Linked DNA regions of Homo sapiens: region 1 is linked to region 2. The links come from fine-mapping of genetic effects on gene expression. A gene starts in region 2. The other region holds a variant in brackets. All regions are shown on one strand. Distances are from middle to middle.

What was found. PIP is the estimated chance that this variant, and not a neighbour inherited with it, causes the effect. A credible set is the group of variants that fine-mapping cannot tell apart.
Region 1: its variant is the best candidate, but not a certain one, in a credible set for the expression of BLVRA in cerebellar hemisphere (GTEx, PIP 0.87).

What each region holds. Positions count from the first base shown.
Region 1 is chr7:43,790,101-43,799,740 of GRCh38, reverse strand. BLVRA (biliverdin reductase A) reads right to left here. Exons shown (of 8, transcript NM_000712.4): 4 at 8,373-8,492; 5 at 6,929-7,026. Among named protein-coding and RNA genes, the nearest start is that of BLVRA, 36 kb to the right of the region's middle. The variant T/C (reference allele first, on the strand shown) is at 3,733.
Region 2 is chr7:43,753,939-43,763,578 of GRCh38, reverse strand. BLVRA (biliverdin reductase A) reads right to left here and starts at 4,899. Exons shown (of 8, transcript NM_000712.4): 1 at 4,845-4,899. It also overlaps the pseudogene LOC107986727. RefSeq lists silencers at 4,475-4,794, 4,805-5,194 and a cis regulatory region at 6,216-6,983.

The sequences.
Region 1 (9,640 bases), 36 kb before region 2:
GCACTTTGGGAGGCCAAGGCAAGTGGATTGCCTAAGCTCAGGAGTTTGAGACCAGCCTGGGCAACATGGCAAAACCTGGCCTCTACAAAAAATACAAAAAATTAGCTAGGTGTGGTGGCATGCACCTGTGGTCCCAGCTACTTGGGAGGCTGAGCTGGGAAGATCACTTGAACCTGGGAGGTGGAGGTTGCAGTTAGCCAAGATCGTACCAGTGCACTGCAGCCCATCTCAAAAAATAAAAATAAAAATAAAATAAAATAAATTTTGGATTATAAAAGAAAGCTGTTAACAATTTTTTTGCTATATAAAATTTTTTCGCTCTATAAAAATTTTTTCATTTCTAGGCCAAAAGCTTCCTAAAACACCAGAACTATTTTGTGATTAAGTACAAAGTGTGGTTATGATCTACAGTTTCACTGAAACAGACAGAAATCTGGGTCAGTGGGAGATGCTCCTGGGACGGTTGCCTTTGTCTAACCCAGCATCACAGCAAATACTGCCAAATGCTCTGGGCTTGACCTGCACCTCAGGAGCAAGGAGGATGTCTGTCGCAGGAGTCTCCAGAAATGTCAGGTGTGTGGGAGGATGGGGTCCTTCCCACCCACTCCTTCAGACGTGAATGTGGCAAAAGGAACTTCTTGTGATAAGTAGAAGCTTTCTGGCACAAAATGGCTTTGCAACAACTAAATGGCACAAAATGCTTTGCAATAAGTACAAGCTTTTCTCCTCACAGGTAGTTTCGCCCACTGCCCCCCACCCCACCGTGAAACTCTGGGGAACATGTTATATTTTCCCCAGCACTATGTAACAGTCTCTGTGTTTCCACATCCATGGTTATTAAAGAAACTATGTATTTTCCAGCTGTGTCTTTTGTTGTTTTCCTGTCGTTCACTCAATGCCTGATTGTGATAAACACACATGGTAACCACAGTACACACACACATCCGTATCCATATATTCCCAGGTCTGTTCACTGAAAGGGCTTGCAGAGATAGCCCAAAGCCATAAGCACAAGCAGTGTCCAAATCTTGCCATCAAAACGTTATTAGCCATTGGAGAACTGACTAATTCCAAGGCTGAGGCAGAGAAAGTACAAGATGAGCCTTAACCACTTTGTGCCAGAAAGCAAGAATTCAAAGAATAATGGAAACATAACAAAATGACAAGGGAGCTGGCAGGAAGAGGTTCCCCACTGAGCAAATTTGGAACAATGTGGACATCAATATGAATAATAAAAAGTAACAACAGCACTGAATAGAAAAACAAAACAAAGCTATGAGTTTCTACTGATATAAAATAATAAATGAATATCAGACAGTGTGATGAGAATGGATATTTAACTAGTTATAAACTACCTTCTCACAAAATAATCACTGATTACAAAGGGAAAAAAAGTAACTTTCAGTGGAAAAGCCCGTCAGACACCACCTAATGAAGTGATATCATTAGTAATTAGATGAACTGATATTGGATGTTACCTGACAGAACACAATGTGAAAAACAGCATCGTTTCCTTTTTTTTTTTTTTTTTTTTTTTTTTTTTGTGAGATGGGGAGTCTCCCTCTGTCACCCAGGCTGGAGTATAGTGGTGCGATCTCGTCTCACTGCAAACTGTGCCTCCCGGGTTCAAGAAATTCTCCTGCCTCAGCCTCCCGAGTAGCTGGAATTACAGGTGCCCACATCATGCCTGGCTAATTTTTTTGATATTTTCAGTAGAGACGGGGTTTCACAGTGTAGGCCAGGCTGGTTTTGAACTCCTGACCTCAAGTAATCTGCCTGCCTTGGCCTCCCAAAGTGCTAGGATTACAGGTGTGAGCCACCATGCCTGGCCACTTGCATACTATTTCTGTGAAAGATGCATACCCCAAATCTAATCATGAAGAAACATCAGATATATTCAAATTTAGGGACATTTTACACAATAACTAACTGTAATATTCATAATTGTCAAGAAAAGATGGAGGAACTGTCCAGAATGAAGGACACTAAAAGTGACATGTCAATAAAAGATAATACATGATTTTGAACTCAGTCATTTTGCCATAAAGAATGTTATTGGGACAACTGGTGAAATTTGAATGAGGTTTGAGGATTAGATTGTTGTAATGTACCAATGCCAATTTCCAGATTTTGATGGTTGTATGCGGTTACATGCATACCTCAGAGATCCTGCAGGTTTCATTCCAGACCACCACAATAAAGTGAATATTGCAATAAAGGGAGTCACATGAATATTTTAGTTTCCCGGTTCATACACAAGTTATGTTTATACTATATTGTAGTTTGTTAAGTATGTGATAACACTATGTTTAGGAAAACAACGTACGTACCTTAATTTAAAAATACGTTATTGAGCTGGGCATGTTGGCCCATGCCTGTAATTCCAGCACTTTGGGAGGCTCAGGCAGGCGGATCACTTGAGGCCAGGAGTTCAAGACCAGCCTGGCCAACATGGCGAAACCCCATCTCTGCTAAAAATACAAAAATTAGCTGTGTGTGGTGGTGTGCACCTATAATCCCAGTTACTCAGGTGGCTGAGGCACAAGAATCACTTGAACCCAGGAGGCGGAGGTTTGCGCCACTGCGTTCAAGCCTAGGTAACAGGGCGAGACTGTCTTAAAAAACCAAAAAACAAAAACAAACAAAAAATGCTACCATCTGATCCTCCATCTTTTTGCTGAAGGAAGGTCTTGCTTCCATGTTGATGGCTGCTGACTGATGCTGGTGGTTACTGACGGTGGCTGTGGATTTGATTTGCATTTTCTATAAGGATTAGTGGTATTGAGCATCTTTTCATATGATTGTTTGCCGTCTGAATAACTTCTTCAGAAAAATGTCTATCCAAGTCCTTTGCCCATTTTAAAATCAGTTTATTTGGTTTGTTTGTTGTTGAGTTGTAGAGTTCTTTAGACATTCTGGATATTGATCTCTTATCAAAGATAAGATTTGCAGATATCTTCACCCATTACATAGACTGCTTTTTCACTCAGTTGATTGCTTCCTTTGAGGCACAGAAGGTTTTAAGTTTGATTAGTCCATTTGTCTGTTTTTTGCTTTTTTTGCCTGTGTTTTTGATGTCGTATGTAAGACATTATTGCCAAATCCAATATCTTGATGCTTTCCCATGTTTTCTTCTAACAATATTACAGTTTTAGGTCTTAAATTTAGTTCTTTAATCCATTTGAGTGAATTTTTTATATGGTGTAAGGTAAGTGTCCAACTTCATTCTTTTGCATGTGGATATCCTGTTTTCCTGGGACCACTTTTTGAAGAGACTGAAACACTTGGTAGAATTCTCCAGTGAAGCCATCTGGTTTTAGGCTTTTCTTTATTGGGAGGTGTTTAATTACTGGTTCAATCTCCTTACTAGTTATAAATCTGTTCAGATTTTTGTTTCTTCATGATTCAGTCTTAGTAGGTTATATGCTACTAGGTATTTATCCCTTTCTAGATTATCCGATTGTTGGAGTATAACAATTGTATAAGTGTTCATTGTAGTCTCATATAATCCTTTTTATTTCAGCAGCATTTGTTGTAATGTCTCCTCTTTCACTTCTGACTTTAGTTTGAGTCTTTACTCTTTTTTTCTTTTCTTTTCTTTTCTTTTTTTTTTTTTTTTGTGAGACAGAGTCTCGCTCTGTTGCCCAGGATGGAGTACAGTGGTGCAATCTCGGCTCACCACAACCTCCCCTCAGCACAACCTCCACCTCCTGGGTTCAAGTGATTCTCCTG[T/C]CTCAGCCTCCCGAGTAGCTGGGACTATAGGCATGTGCCACCATGCCTGGCTAATTTTTGTATTTTTAGTAGAGATGGGGTTGCACTATTTTGGCCAGGCAGGTCTTGGACTCTTGACCTTGTGATCTGTCCTCCTTGGCCTCCCAAAATGCTGGGATTACAGGCGTGAGCCACTGCACCCGGCCGACTCTTTTTTTTCTTAATCTGCTAAAATTCTGTCAATTTTATGGATTTTTTTCAAAAAAACTTGGTTTTGTTGATTTTTTTCTATTGCTTTTCTACTCTCTATTTTATTTATGTTCTAATCTTTACTTGCTTTTTTCTGCTAATTTTCGATTGAGTTTGCTCTTCTTTTCCTAGTCCCTTGAAATGTAAAGTTAGGATGTTGAATTGAGATCTTTCTTCTTGTTTAATGTAAGCATTTACAACTATCCACTTCTCTCTTAGTACTGCTTTCATTACATCTTGTCAGTTTTGTATTGTTTTGTTTTGTTTGAGCAGAGTCTCACTCCATCGCCCAGGCTGGAGTGCAGTGGTGCGATCTCCCTCACTGCAACCTCTGCCTCCTGGGTTTAAGCAATTCTCCTGCCTCAGCCTCCCCAGTAGCTGGGACTATATGTGCGCGCCACCACACCTGGCTAATTTTTGTATTTTTAGTAGAGATGGGGTTTCACCATGTTGGCTAGGCTGGTCTTGAAATCCTGACCTCAGGTGATTCGCCCGCCTCAGCCTCCCAAAGTGCTGGGATTACAGGCACAATCTATTTTTATTATTTATTTATGTATGTATTTAATTTCTGAGATGGAGTCTCACTGTGTCGCCCAGGCTAAAGTGCAATGCCACAATCTTGGCTCACTGCAACCTCCACCTCCTGGGTTCAAGCGATTCTCGTGCCTTAGCCTCTGGAGTAGCTGGGATTACAGGCACGTGCCACCAGGCCCAGCTAATTTTTGTATTATTAGTAGAGACGGAGTTTCACCATGTTGCCCAGGCTCCTCTTGAAATCCTGACTTCAGGTGATCCACCAGCCTCGGCTTCCCAAAGTGCTGGGATGACAGGCATGAGCCACCACACCCGACTGCATAATCTATTTTAAACTGCTAACAACTTAACTCAATCACATACAAAATTCTACTCCTTTATATCTCTGACCCCCCATTTTGCTATTAATGTTACCAATTACATCTTTTTATACTATACATCCATTAACATAGTTTGTATTTTTTTGTCTTTTAAATTCTATGCCAGGATTTAAAGTGATATTTATTTATTTAGAGATAGAGTTTCATGGTGTTACCCAGGCTGGAGTGCAGTGGCACCATCTCAGCTCACTGCAACCTCCGCCTCCCAGGTTCAAGCAATTCTGCTGCCTCAGCCTCCTGAGTAGCTGGGACTACAGGCAAGCGCCACCACGCCCAGCTAATTTTTTTATTTTTAGTAGAGATGGGGTTTCACCATGTTGGCCAGGATGGTCTTGAACTCCTGACCTCAAATGATCTGCTTGCCTCGGCCTCCCCAAGTCCTGGGATTACAGGCTTGAGCCACCGTGCCTGGCCTAAAGTGATTTATATGTCAACATTACAATACTACGGAAGTCTGTATTTGTCTATATATTTACCTTTACCAGAGAGCAATATTTTTGTGTTGCTGTCTAGTGTTTTCACTTTAACTTGAAAGACTTCCTTTAGCATTTCCTGTAGGGCAGGTCTAGTAGTGATCAACTCACTTGGTTTTTGTTTGTCTGGGTAGGTCTTTTAAAGAATTTTTATTTTTATTTTTGAGACAGGGTCTCACTCTGTTGCCCAGACTAGAGTGCAGTGGCCCGATCATGGTTCAGTGCAGCCTCAACCTCCTAAGGTTCAGGTGAACTTCCAAGTAGCTGGGACTACCGGTATGCACCACCACACCCAGTTAATTTTTGTATTTTCAGTAGAGATGGGGTTTCACCATGTTGCCCAGGCTGGTCTCAAACTCCTGGGCTCAAATAATCTATCCATCAGAGCCTCCTAAAGTGCTGGGATTACAGGTGTGAGCCACTGTGCCCAGCTGAGTCTTTTTTTTTTTTTCTTGTAATTAAAAATTTTGTATGCCGGGCACGGTCACTCATGCCTGTAATCCCAGCACTTTGGGAGGCCGAGGTGGGTGGATCGCGAGGTCAGGAGTTTGAGACCATTGTGTCCAACATCGTGAAACCCCATCTCTACTAAAAATACAAAAATTAGCTGGGCATGGTGGTGGGCGCCTGTAATCCTAGCTACTCAGGAGGCTGAGGAAGGAGAATCCCTTGAACCCAGGAGGCGGAGGTTGCAGTGAGCTGAGATGGTGCCATTGAACTCCAGCCTGGGTGACACAGCAAGACTCTGTACCCCACCAAAAAAAAAAAAAAAAAAGTTGTAAAAGATTTTTGTAGAAACAGGGTCTCATTATGTTGCCCAGGGTTGTCCCAAGCTCCTTGGCCTCCCAAAGTGCTGGGCTGACAGGGCATGAGCCACTGCGTCTGGCCTGGGAAAGTCTTAATTTCTCCCTTCTGGAGGGTGGTATGGCTTAGGGGAACAAATGTGAACTTAAGAGCCCTGTAGGATTTGATTAAAATCTCTACCTCCCACTTAGTAGTCATGTTATTAGCTTTGTGACCTGGCACAAATTAACTTCTTTGAGCCATATTTTTCTATACAGCATCTAGAGAAAATATATACCTCCAAGGGATTCTAGAAGAATTAAGCAAAATAACATATGAAGTGCTTAGCAGAGTTTCCAAGTTCCTAGCATATACTAAATATTTAATAAATGGTTATTCCTGTTTAGAAACAACAAAAACTACAAACTATGCAAATAAGACAATCAGTTTCTCTGATTTGAGCATTTTTAGGATATCCCAGCATTTAGCAATATAAGTATCACATGAATAAAGCCAAAATAATATCATGACATAAGCATAGGTGAAAACTAATTCATATTTTTTCCTTAGAGTGAGTAAAATAAGCTGATAAGCTTTGACCAAAAGTTTGCAAATTCCCACCCATCCTTCTGCCCTCCACTATCTGTGTTTACAGTGTGGGGGTGAGGAGGCAGTTGGGAGCCCACAGTGCCAGTGTAGCCAGGAGGAGGAGATATCTGAAATGGGGTTAAGTTTTAAAGGCATAAAGATGATATCACAGAAATCCTGGAGGCAGAAACTCTTGGTAAGATACATTACCTTTCTGCTCAGCCAGCTCCCACAGTTCCTGAGCGGCCGCCAATGACAGTGTCATGGGGTATTCCACAAGGACGTGCTTGCCAGCATTAAGGAACTGCCTTTGGTAAACGAGACAAATACAGAGAAAGAACACTTCGAATAAGCTTCACTGAAATGCTCTGCATAATAGAGAACAGAATGTTATAAAGGCATGAGAGTTTCTGTGTGTGAATGTGTCATGACTGGGGGTAGGAGTCAGTGCCACGGGATATGGAGGAAGAACTGTATCCCACATTGTTTTCTACTATCCTGTGACAGATCAACTTTCTGGTTATGTGTTAATTTGAACATTCAACCATTCATTTATTCAACTAAGTACTATTTACCAATTACTGTGGAGGAGAAATAAAGACACATTAACAAATAAATTTCCTATCACCACATGGTAGCTATAAAGGCTACAAAACCCACAGCGGCTAGCTTTGCCTGAGGCAGTCTGAAAAGATTTCACTAAGGACCTATGAACTGGGTCTCAAAGTATGAGCAGACATTTTCCAGGTGCAACATGTGAGTATATTTCACTGTGAGCAGCGTATGCAGGGGCTTGGGCATTTGTGGGGCTTTGTTCAATCGGCAAACTTCAGTGTGGCAGGGGAGTGGACTACAGGCCGTGGAGGATAATAACGTTGGAAAAGTAGCTGGGGGCCTGACTGTGAAGGACCTACAATTCTGTGCTCAGCAGTTCAGATTTCATTCTGTGGATACCAGAGTACAAATATTTATAAGCATGGGACTTATGTCAGAATCACTTTTCTTAAGGAAATACACTCTGGTGCCAGAAAAGGTTAAGGAAAGCCAAGGAGAGGTGTTTTTGTCTACTCTAGAGCTAGACTGATAAAGAGGAAGCATCTTACCCGTGGGAAACAGCATGGTGGGAGCAGCTGTAAGAACCTAGAAGGAAGCTAGACTGAGGAAGGCAGCTGGCACTTCCCTGTTAGCTGCCAGGTCCTGAGGGTTAAAGGAACTCAACCGTTATTTTATGACATTGAAAGCACAAAGGAGAAAACGTTGGAAGCTGATCCAAACTGAGAAGGGAGTATGATAATTTGCCAAGGATGCCGGCTCCACATCCTAAACTGTCTGGTGAGAAGAAGGAGGCCACTACTGTTGAAAACTACTCTCGATGGGTTTTTACAGAGAAATAAAACACTTTAATTCTGAATGTTTCTAATGTTTCAAATTACACATACTAAATATTAATTTTACTATTTTTCACTTCCTTATATATTTATAACCAGCAATAAGAATTTCTTAATGTTTTGACACTTCTGTGATTGGTCACAGAGCAATTGTAATTTTCTCACTGGCTCTTCTGACTCCTTTGCAGGGTGTTTTAGCTTGCTTGCTCATTTTTGCAGTACTGCACTGCTGTGTAAGGCAAGGACTGCCTGTGTGGAAAACCCACCTGATGTAGTCCTCATGGCTGGAGCTCTCACTGCAGATATAGGCGACCTCCACCTCTTGGCTGGAAAGAGCATCCTCCAAAGAAATCTGCTGGACTCCATCAATGCTCCCGAGCTCCCTTCTATTTCAGAGTAACAGAGAAATGGAACTCAATGGTAGACAGAAGAAAGGAGCACCATCCTTCTCCCCTCCTCCCGACAGGTCCTGGTGATCTGCTGCCAGAAATGAAGAAATGAGTTTCTTCTCTCCCACTTCCAGGCTATTTTCCATTGTGGAGTGAGAAAAATAGCCTCAGAGTTCAAGTCAGGGGATCTGGCATTGAGTGCCAACAGTACCATTCACAGCGTGTATGACCTGGGAGAGTCTTGAATTACTTCATCTCCAAAACAAAAGAAACAGCTGGGCGCGGTGGCTCAAGCCTATAATCCCAGCACTTTGGGAGGCCGAGGTGGGTGGATCACTTGAGGTCAGGAGTTCAAGACCAGCCTGGCCAACATGGTGAAAACCTGTATCTACAAAAAATACAAAAGTTAGCCAAATGTGGTGGTGGGCGCCTGTAATCCCAGCTACCTGGGAGGCTGAGGCAGGAGAATCACTTGAATCCGGGAGATGGAGGTTGCAGTGAGCCGAGATTGCACCACAGCACTCCAGCCTGGGTGACAGAGCAAGACTCCTCAAAAATAAAATAACATAAAAATAAAAGGAACAATCTACTTTTATCTCATGAGAAGTGATCTCTATGGTCACTTCCAGTTCCAAGCACTTGGCCAAACATTGTGACTACCAAACCTAATCCAAATCCAATACGTTAACACATTTAGGGTGCAAACTGGCATGCGACTTCGAGCTACTTTATAGCTAAGCTAACGAAGCCCAGTAGTATGTACGCACACATGTTTGTGTGTGTGTGTGTCTGTGTGTGTGTTTGTGTGTGTGTGTGTGTCTTCCTCCCTCTGGCCGACTGAGCTCATTGGAAGGTGAGGAATTCGTTCTCCATGATTTCTCCTATAATGCCTAGCACATAATAGGCAGTGATAGCCTTGACTAACCAGGAGCAGAAGCAGGAGGGGAACCCAAGGCCTTCTGACTCTTCTAGAGCATGGGGGAGCTGCAGTCTTCGAAGAGCCAAAGCCCCAGCAGTCCGTACACCTCCCAGTGCAGCGGCTGGGGCAGGAGAGTAGCCCTCTAAGGGTGGCAGTCATGGGGGAATGTGGGACAGCTAGCAAGCAGAAGGCCCTCAGCCCGCTCAGAGCTCCAGCTGAGCTGCAG
Region 2 (9,640 bases):
CTTTGTTTTTCAAAAACATTTTTTGCCTATTTCCTTTTATTCCCACAATATCCCTAAGAAGTAGAGCGCCCCCCGTGCCCCAACCTTCATTCTGCAGAGGCAGAAAGACATTGGATCCCTTGCTGATGGTGGTCCCTGGTGGTCCCTCCTCAGCAGGCAGGCTGACTGTACTCTTAGCATCCAGCTGGGTTTAGCCAGTGGAGGAGATCGGCAGGCAAGAAACAGAAAGAGAGAGGCTAGGGTACTTGTGCTCCCCCTGCCTGGTTCCTCAGGCTGCTGCTCTGGCAGTGGCTGCATTCTGTGATGGCCACAGCAGGTCTGGAAGGGAGTGGCTCCTCCAGCAGTATTCCAGCCCCCTCCTCCCAGCTCTGGTCCCCTCCCTACCCCTTCAAACCAGAGAGGGGATGGTGCCCACTGAAGCTCTTCCCTGTGTGCCTCACCATCACTTGTTGGCTCCTCCAATCCTGCCCACTCTTCTATAAAAAGTCTCCTTAAAATTCCTTTCATTTTTATGCTTTTCACTGTTGGGATTCCCAACTGATAAACTTGGCAGTATATCAGTTTGCAGCATCCCTGGCCTTTCCCCACTAGATGCCAGTGGCACATACCGTTTTCCCCCCAGCACGACAATCAGAAATGTCAGTAACAACTACTGGGTTAAGGGCCGGGCACGGTGGCTCATGCCTGTAATCCCAGCACTTTGGGAGGCCGAGGCGGGCATGGGGCTGATCATGAGGTCAAGAGATCGAGACCATCCTGGCCAACATGGTGAAACCCCATGTCTACTAAAAATACAAAAATTACCTGGGTATGGTGGCGTGCACCTGTAGTCCCAGCTACTCGGGAGGCTGAGGCAGGAGAATTGCTCGAACCTGGGAGGCGGAGGTTGCAATGAGCCGAGACCGTCCCACTGCACTCCAGCCTGGGTGACAGAGCAAGACTCCATCTTAAAAAAAAAAAAAAAAAAAAAAAGGAACTACTGGGTTCATGGAAATCACTAAATTATTGCTGACAAAGCTCTAGAGTTTCACATTCCAATTTGCACGTGGGAGAGATGCAAAATCTCACAGTAAATTAATAGCACAGCCAGGACTAAACAGCTTCCTTGGCTTACATTATGTTTCCCTTTTGATTTCAGTCTCTTTCCCACATGCAAATTGGAATCTGAAACTCCAGAGCTTTGTCAGCAATAAATTAGTGATTTTCATTAACCCAGTATTTCTCACCAACATTTCTGATTGTTGTACTCGGGGGGAAAAGGGTATGTGCCATTGGCATCTAGTAGGGAAAGGCCAGGGATGCTGCAAAACATCCTGTGATGCACAGGACACCTTCCTACCCCAACTACACATACACAAAGAATTATCCAGCCCAAAATGTCAACAGTGCCAGAGTTGAAAAAGCCTGGATTACACATCATGCAGAATGAACTACAGCTGTGACCTTCCTCCTTGTTCCTCCTCAAACGCCCTCTCAAGTATCTATTATTGCCCCAAAGCCAGGTGACTCACAGAAGTATGGGGAAGGATTAGGGAGAGGGTGACCCTCTCAGGTGGGGCCAGCTGCCAGCCTCAGAGGTCTAAGGGTAAAGGTAAAAGCAACTCTTGCCCTGGAGGGAGTTGGATACTTTGGGATCTATTGAGAAAAATATAATAGCTACATGGGACACAAGTCTGGAAATATATACATCAAAATATTACCAGTAATTATGTCTCTAAGTGGTGAAACTTTTAGTGACTACTTTCTTTTTGCTTCTCTGTACACTTTAAACTTTTCTATAAAGATTAGTTAACATAATTATTCAAAACTCTAAAAAACATTACAAACTATGCCACTTTCACTGACTGCATCCCTCCTAGCCCCAAACTGAACAGACTTTCACAGGGCAATAACATATCAAGGTGCTCTGATAATGAAGTCCACAGAAAATTTTCCCTATAACTGAGAATCAGGAAAGGCTCTGCTTCCTTCAAGGCCATTAACATTTGGGGGATCAATGAATGAATGAATGAATGAAGTTGCCATGTATGTTTTACTTTCAAAAGACAAGAACCATGTAACTGACCAAGTTTACCTTTCTAGAAACAAATTTGGGACTCAACTACAAAAATATAGGCCTGCAATGACCTATAAGGGAGCCGCTACACAGAGTGGCTATTGGAATATAAATTAATTAAATATAGCACATTTTCATAATCACAGAAAATTCTATTGGATAACACTGAAACACTTCATTCTTTTTTTCCCCTGGAATAGTTTCTTGTACTTATACTTTCTCTCATCTCAATTCCTGGCCATATTTATCTTCTATTTATTTGTTACTATTCTGTGATTTTGTTGCAAATGACCTTAATTCCTTTGTGGATCAATTTGGGGCATTGTACTTTGGAAATATCAGTGTGTATATATGTCACTGTTCCTGAGAGTTCAACCTTCATTTCTGACCATAAGGCAGATCTAGCAGCTCATGTAATGTAGCTATTTCCTCACAGCTCAAAGACGGAAGAGAGGCCGGGTGAAATGGCTCACGCCTGTAATCCCAGCACTTTGGGGAGGCCATGGTGGGTGGATTACTTGAGGTCAGGAGTTCGAGACCAACCTAGCCAACATGGCAAAACCCTGTCTCTACTAAAAGTATAAAAATTAGCTGGTCATGGTGGTGCGTGCCTGTAATCCCAGCTACTTAGGAAGCTGAGGAATGAGAATCACTTGAACCCAGGGGGCGGAGGTTGCAGTGAGCCAAGATGGCGCCACTGCACTCCAGCCTGGGCGACACAGTGAGACTCCATCTCAAAAAAAAAAAAAAAAGACTCAAGAGGACATTGTCAGGAACTAAGCTCCCCTGTCACAAAGGCACTATATTCAGTGTTTTTTTTTTTAAATACACAAAAAGGTATACACTGTCCATTAATGGAAAGTTTCACTATTTGATTAAAGCTTAATTTGAAGCTGAGTAATGCAATGTCTTTTTCAAATTCCAAAATACATGGCTATCAACTTATTTCTAAAATCTTAAATATATGATTTACCACAAAAAACAAATGGCCCAACCTGTTACTACTGATAAATATATGATCATGTCATCAGAGTCCTGGATACGCCAAAGAGAATCAGAAATGAAAATGCGCGCAGCTCCTGCACAGTGGGATTCCCTGTCAGCCCACGGTTCTGATGGAGTGTCGCCTCTACATAGAAGTCAGTGCAATTTTGAGTATTTTACCAGATTTTCAGTTCTAGAAAAAATGACTGGGAGTAATAAGCAGTGTAGATCAAAAACTAAATACAATTATAACAAAGATGAAAATTAATAGATGTGGCCCAAAGTGGCAAATCTTTGACTTTAATCACATGCTAACTGGATAGGCAGGGGGTACAAAGAATAAAAAAGTAAAGATCGGCCGGGCGCGGTGACTCATGCCACGCCTGTTATAATCCCAGCACTTTGGGAGGCCGAGGCGGGTGGATCACCTGAGGTCAGAAGAATTGCTTGAACCCAGCAGGTGGAAGTTGCAGTGAGCCGAGATCGCGCCACTGTACTCCAGCCTGGTGACAGGGCGAGGCTCTGTCTCAAAAAAAAAAAAAAAAAAAAATTACATATGAAATGTGGGAAAACACACTGAGAATTATTCCTAAAAAAGTTGAAGTATAATTAGAGACCCTATTGTAATTTTTAGCTCTCTGGCTACAGAATTTCCCTTCTGATACTTTGTCTAACATTTGACTTGTTTTTCTGGAATGCATCCCGTTAAGGGAAGGATGAGCATATTTATCAATACAATCTTTTAGGAAATAATTAGGAATATACCAATACCTTTATTTCCATAATTTTAATATCTTCTTGGGAATCGTACTATAGAAATTACATTAATGATGGAAAAACTTTCAGCACAGTATTGCTTCCTTTGTAGGTGGTGATGATGACAGCTAACATTTACTGAATCCTTCCCATGCTGAAAACCCTATTGTAAGCTATTTATGTTCGCTAAGTCACTTATTCTTCAGGGCTATCCTACTAAGTAAGCATTATGATTACCCCCACTTTTACAGGTGAGAAAATCGAGGCAACAAGAGGTTGGTTAACGTGCCCAAGATCAGATCGCACAGCGGTATAATAGGATGGAAAACTCCTATCACATAATGAACGTTAAGTGAAAAAAATTAGTATCCAAAACTGTAAGTCTGATGTCTCATTCTTTTTATAATTTAAGTAGTTTATAAATACCCTCATTATTAGCCATATTTCTGAGCACTTCATATGTAGAGTGCACTTTACAGAACACTGTCATGTAACCCTCACACCGTCTACGAAATAAGTGATAGTTTCCAGTTTCCAAAAACGAAAGCGGGGCTAGGAGAGGCCAAGTGCCTCGCGTGGCGCCTCAGGATTCGCCCCAGCGGAGCAGACCCCAGGGCATCCCAGGCGGGTCCCGGCCGAGCTAGCGGCCCTGCGGTGGCTACGCCCGGGCCCAGCCGCTCGCGCTCCTGGAGCCGCCGGACTACGCGGCACGCGGACGCCGAGCCTGCCCTCTTGGGTCTACATAAAAACCGAAACTACGGGCAGTCTTAACCGAAATGGAGACTTAATTTTTTAGACTGTCTTTTGTGTAGTTGAGAAAGCCCCTTGCCGGGACCCGCGCTGCTGGGCCTCCGACCGCGTCCTCACTCCGGGCCCGGGCGGGGCGGGGCGGGGCAGGCGGCGCCCAGGCTGCGTCCCGGCTCTGGCGGCCGCGGGCCCGGGCCTCCTGCGGGCCTGGGGCTTCGAGCTCAGGCCCTAGCGCTCTATGGAAGCCGCGCGCGACCCCCGCTCCCCTGCGCGCGACCCCCGTTCCCCGCGCGCGCCTCACCTGACGCGGGCACCGCTCTCCGTGCAGCCTCCGGGCGCCACCGGCTTTGCGGACCGGGGCGGGATCCCAGCTCCGATTGGCTGCCCGGCTGGGGGGCGGGGGCCCCGAAGCGGGGTGGCGGAGACCGGGAGGGGACCGGAGGCGGTGGGGAAGGGAGTGGACGGAAGGGGAGGGAGGGTCCCGGCCTCGTGCGGTCGCGCGTGAGATCCTGGCCTCTGTGCCCTGGGTCTGGCGCCTGGGGCCGTAAGAACCGTCCGTGCGCCTGCCCTGTTCTCTGCACCCAGCTTGGTGGCGAGGGGTGGGTGGTGGGTGCCGGCCGACCGGAGGGCGTATGGAAGTGGCTGGGCCCCCTCACGGTGTGCCTGGCCCCCTCACGGTGTGCCTGGCCCCGGCGTGGGGGGGGCAGGCCCGGGGGGTGTCGCATCTCTCTTATCCGCCCCCCACTCACCACGTAGAACCCACTGGATCCCATTGGTATTTAGTGGCCCCGGGCCGACTGAACTGGCGCCGAGGCTTACCTGAGTCCTTCCTGTAAATGTGAGGAGCGGAGGGAATATTCCAGGAGGCCGGTGTCTGCGATGTCCTGCTCTTGGGTAGCTAGGAAGTAGTGAACGTGGTCTAGGGAACTGCCTGGGCTCTTATCCACCTGGGAATGGGTTTGTTGGGGATCCTGATGTGGGAGAAGCCAGGGAGCTTCTAGCCTAGTGGGGCTAGGGGAGAAAACAGGGAGAGGGGTGGATTAGGCTGAAGGAAAGAGATCTCTGATCTTAAAGGCAGCGTTCTGACGGGTAAGGTTGACTGGCATTTTCCCCAACAAAGAGTTCTAGTACCGTATTCCATGACCTGACAAGCCTGTTTAAGTGAGGTTTTGTTGAGTGCAAAGAGAGAAGGCTTGGCTTTGAATTTTTATCTCCAGGCGGGACCTGCCTCCTGAACTCCATACTCCTCTATCCAGCTGCCTCCTTAATACCTCCTCTTGGATCTCTAAAATACATTTCAATCTCAACACATCCAAATCTGTGCCCCTGATCTCTTCCCCATAGCATCACCATCTCGATGGCAACTCCATCTTCCAGTTGTCAAGGCCAGAAACCTTGCTGTTTCAGAAACCTTTCTCTCACATCCCACCTCCAGGGCCCAAAAATTCTGTTGGTTGGATCTCCCTAGCATACCCAGAGCCTGACCACTTCTTACCTCTGCCTCCATCATCTGCTACCTGGGTCATGACAGTGGTCTCTTCCCTGATATCCCTGCAGCCTGTCCCCATAAAGCAGCCAGAGTGACCTTAAAAAAAGAAAGCCAGATCAAATTCCTCCTCTGCCCAAAACCTTCCCAGTGGTTTCCCAAACTCAGAGTAAAACCCAAAGCCCTGCCTGATCTGCTCCTCTGTTACCCCTACAACCTCATCTGCTACTGCCTCCCCACTGGCTCACTCTGCTCCAGTCACTCTGGCCTCCCTGCTATTTCTTATGCAAGGCAGACAGGGCTCTGCTGCAGGGTCTTTGCACAGGCTCCTGTCTGTTTGGAATGCTCGACTACTTCTCACTCTTCCTGATATTTTCTCAAATGCTGCCTCATTGAGAACTACCCTAACCACTCCATTTGAAATTGCCACCTGCCCCACTCCTGAATGACTTATTTCTTTAGCTCCTGACTGAATTTGTTTATTTAGCTTATTGTTTGTTATCTGTCTCTTCCATCCACCCCTCCCTGCTGCTGCCCCTTGGGTCATGATATGTCCTTTCTCGGAAAAATAACTGCCACTGATGAGGTACCATATTTTCACTGGCAAGGCCTAGGACATAAGCCAAACTCTGGGGTCTGATTGTGCAGTCACTTTAAATAAACCACAAGAGAAAAGAGTGATTCCCCAAAAGGACATGCTGAGTGCTGCTGCTAGGAGAAGGGATGCTGGCTAGGCAAAACCACAGATGTTCACTTGCTGAGTCAGACCAGTACACCCAGAGGAGCTTTGGGAAAGCCTGTGAGAGGGGCCCTCCATGTCCTTGAGAGCAGAATTTAAAGATGAGACCTCTAACCCCCTCACTTTCTTGTAATGATGTGTTATGAATGCATTGATTTATTTATCTTATCCTTCTAAAGTCTAGTTTTGTATTCAGTTTCTACTTTTTTGAGTAAGAGCTTCCCATTCTACAAAGTAGTGACTCTCTTCAACCTGAAGAACTTTGTGGGAGGTTGGGGGGACAGTAAGACTGCTGTAGGCCACAAGTGACAGAAACCCCACCCAAACAGATTAACAGTTAGGAGGTGTATTAAGGCTCCAGCTCCATTTCTGTGTCATTCTCTTAGCTCTTTTTCTCCTATGTGTAACAAGATATGAAAGTATAGATTTTGATTAGGACAACAAGATATACTAATGTGAAATTCTAGGAAGAGATCTCCAAAGATGTAAGAAAGAATCAGGCGGGAGCCACCTGTAATCGCAACACTTTGGGAGGCCCAGGCAGGCAGGTCGCAGCCTGGGCAACATGGTAAGACCCCGTCTCTACTAAAAATACAAAAATTAGCCAGGTATGGTGGCATATGCCTATACTCCCAGCTACTCTGGGAGGGAGGCTGAGGCATGAGAATCACTTGAACCCGGGAGACAGAGGTTGCAGTGAGCCAAGATAGCACTACTGCACTACAGCCTGGGAGACAAAGTGAGACTCCATCTAAAAAAAAAAAAATTAAAAAAATAATAAAAGTAAAAAATAAAATAAAATAAATAAATAAAAAGAAGGAATTGGAGAGTGGAAGGAGGGTTTGGTGAAGAAATCTCTGACAGAGGCCGGGTGCGGTGGCTTAATGCCTGTAATCCCAGCACTTTGGGAGGCCGAGGCAGGCAGATCACTTGAGGTCAGGAATTTGAGATCAGCCTGGGCAACATGGTGAAACCCCGTTTCCATTAGAAATACAAAAATTAGCCAGGCACAGTGGAGCGTACCTGTAGTTCCAGTTATTCAGGAGGCTGATGCAGGAGAATCGCTTGAATCTGAGAGGCAGAGGTTATAGTGAGCTGGGATCTCCCCACCTCACTCCAGCCTGGGCGACAGAATGAGACTCCGTCTCAAAAAAAGAAAAAAAGGGGCAGGCGCGGTGGCTCACACCTGTAATCCCAGCACTTTGGGAGGCCGAGGTGGGCAGATCACCTGAGGTCAGGAGTTCAGGACCAGCCTGGCCAATGTGGTGAAACCCCGTCTCTACTAAAAATACAAATAAAAAAAAAAAATTTAGCCAGGCATGGTGGTACGTGCCCATAATCCCAGCTACTCGGGAGGTTGAGGCAGGAGAATTGCTTGAACCTGGGAGGCAGAGGTTGCAGTGAGCCAAGATCATGCCATTGCACTGCAGCCTGGGCGACGAGTGAGACTCTGTATCAAAGAAAAAGAAAAGGCCAGGCGCAGTGGCTCACACTTGTAATCCCAGCACTTTGGGAGGCCGAGGCGGGCAGATCACGAGATCAGGAGATCGAGACCATCCTGGCTAACACGGAGAAACCCCGTCTCTACTAAAAATACAAAAAATTAGTCAGACGTAGTGGGGGGCGCCTGTAGTCCCAGCTACTCGGGAGGCTGAGGCAGGAGAATGGCGTGAACCCGGGAGGCGGAGCTTGCAGTGAGCTCCAGCCTGGGCAACAGAGCGAGACTCCGTCTCAAAAAAAAAAAAAAAGAAAAAAAGAAAAAAGAAATCTCTGACAGAGCTTTTGCTGTGCTGTGAGTTTACTTCCTCCCCACTGAGGGAAGCTTCCGCAGCCCATTTCCTTCACTTCATGCCTACAGGCTTCCAGCCATTTGGGGAGCTTGTTAGGTATGTTGGTGCACATGGAGACTCTCTGGTCACTTACCTCCCACCTGAAAAAGGCATGCAGTGGTCGGCTGTCAGCCCACACATGCCGAGGGGTCCCAAGATGCATTTGTGTTTCCCATGGATCAGATATGGGCCATGCAGGAGACAGTGCCCTTGGATCCAGTCCAGTAAGGCTGCCTGGAAGGGCAGGAAGCTGGCGGTGAATGCCAGATATGTAGAGGTGAGGAAGAAGTCACAGTACATGTACCCACAGGGAGAACTGCTGGAGAGAGGTCTGGCATGGTCATCTCCAAAGAGCTGATGAACACTACAGTCCAAAAAATGACATCATGTATTGTCATAGTCCATTCAGGCTACTATAACAAATACCTTGGACTGGGTAATTTATAAACAGCAGAAATTTATGGCTCTTAGTTCTAGGGGCCGGGAAGTCTAAGACCAAGGTGCTAGGAGATTCAGTGTCTGGTGAGGGCTCAGTCTGCTTCAAAGATGGTGCCTTCTCATGCATCCTACATGGTGCAAGGGGCAAGCCAGCTCCCTTCAACTTTTTTTTTTTTTTTTTTTTTCTGAGACGGTGTCTCACCCTGTCACCCAGGCTGGAGTGCAGTGGCTCATCTCAGCTCACTGCAGCCTCTGCCTCCCGTGGAACCTCCTGAGTAGCTAGGATTATAGGTGCGTGCCACCACACCCAGCTAATTTTTAAATTTTTTTGTAGAGACAAGCCCTTGCTATACTCCCTGCGCTAGTCTGAAACTCGTGCACTCAAGAGGTCCTCTGCCTTGACCTCCCAAAGTGCTGAGGTTACAGGGGTGAGCCACCACACCCAACCAAGATGTTGCAGTTTTGAAAGGATCTCAGGCAGAAGCAGGACAGTGCAGTATTCAGCGTGCATTAGCCTATTTATGAAATCCTCTGAGATACCACCAGGGGAGGGGGCCACTGAGTAAGGTTCTGCAAGTACAGGTAGAAATAATTATCCAGAAAAA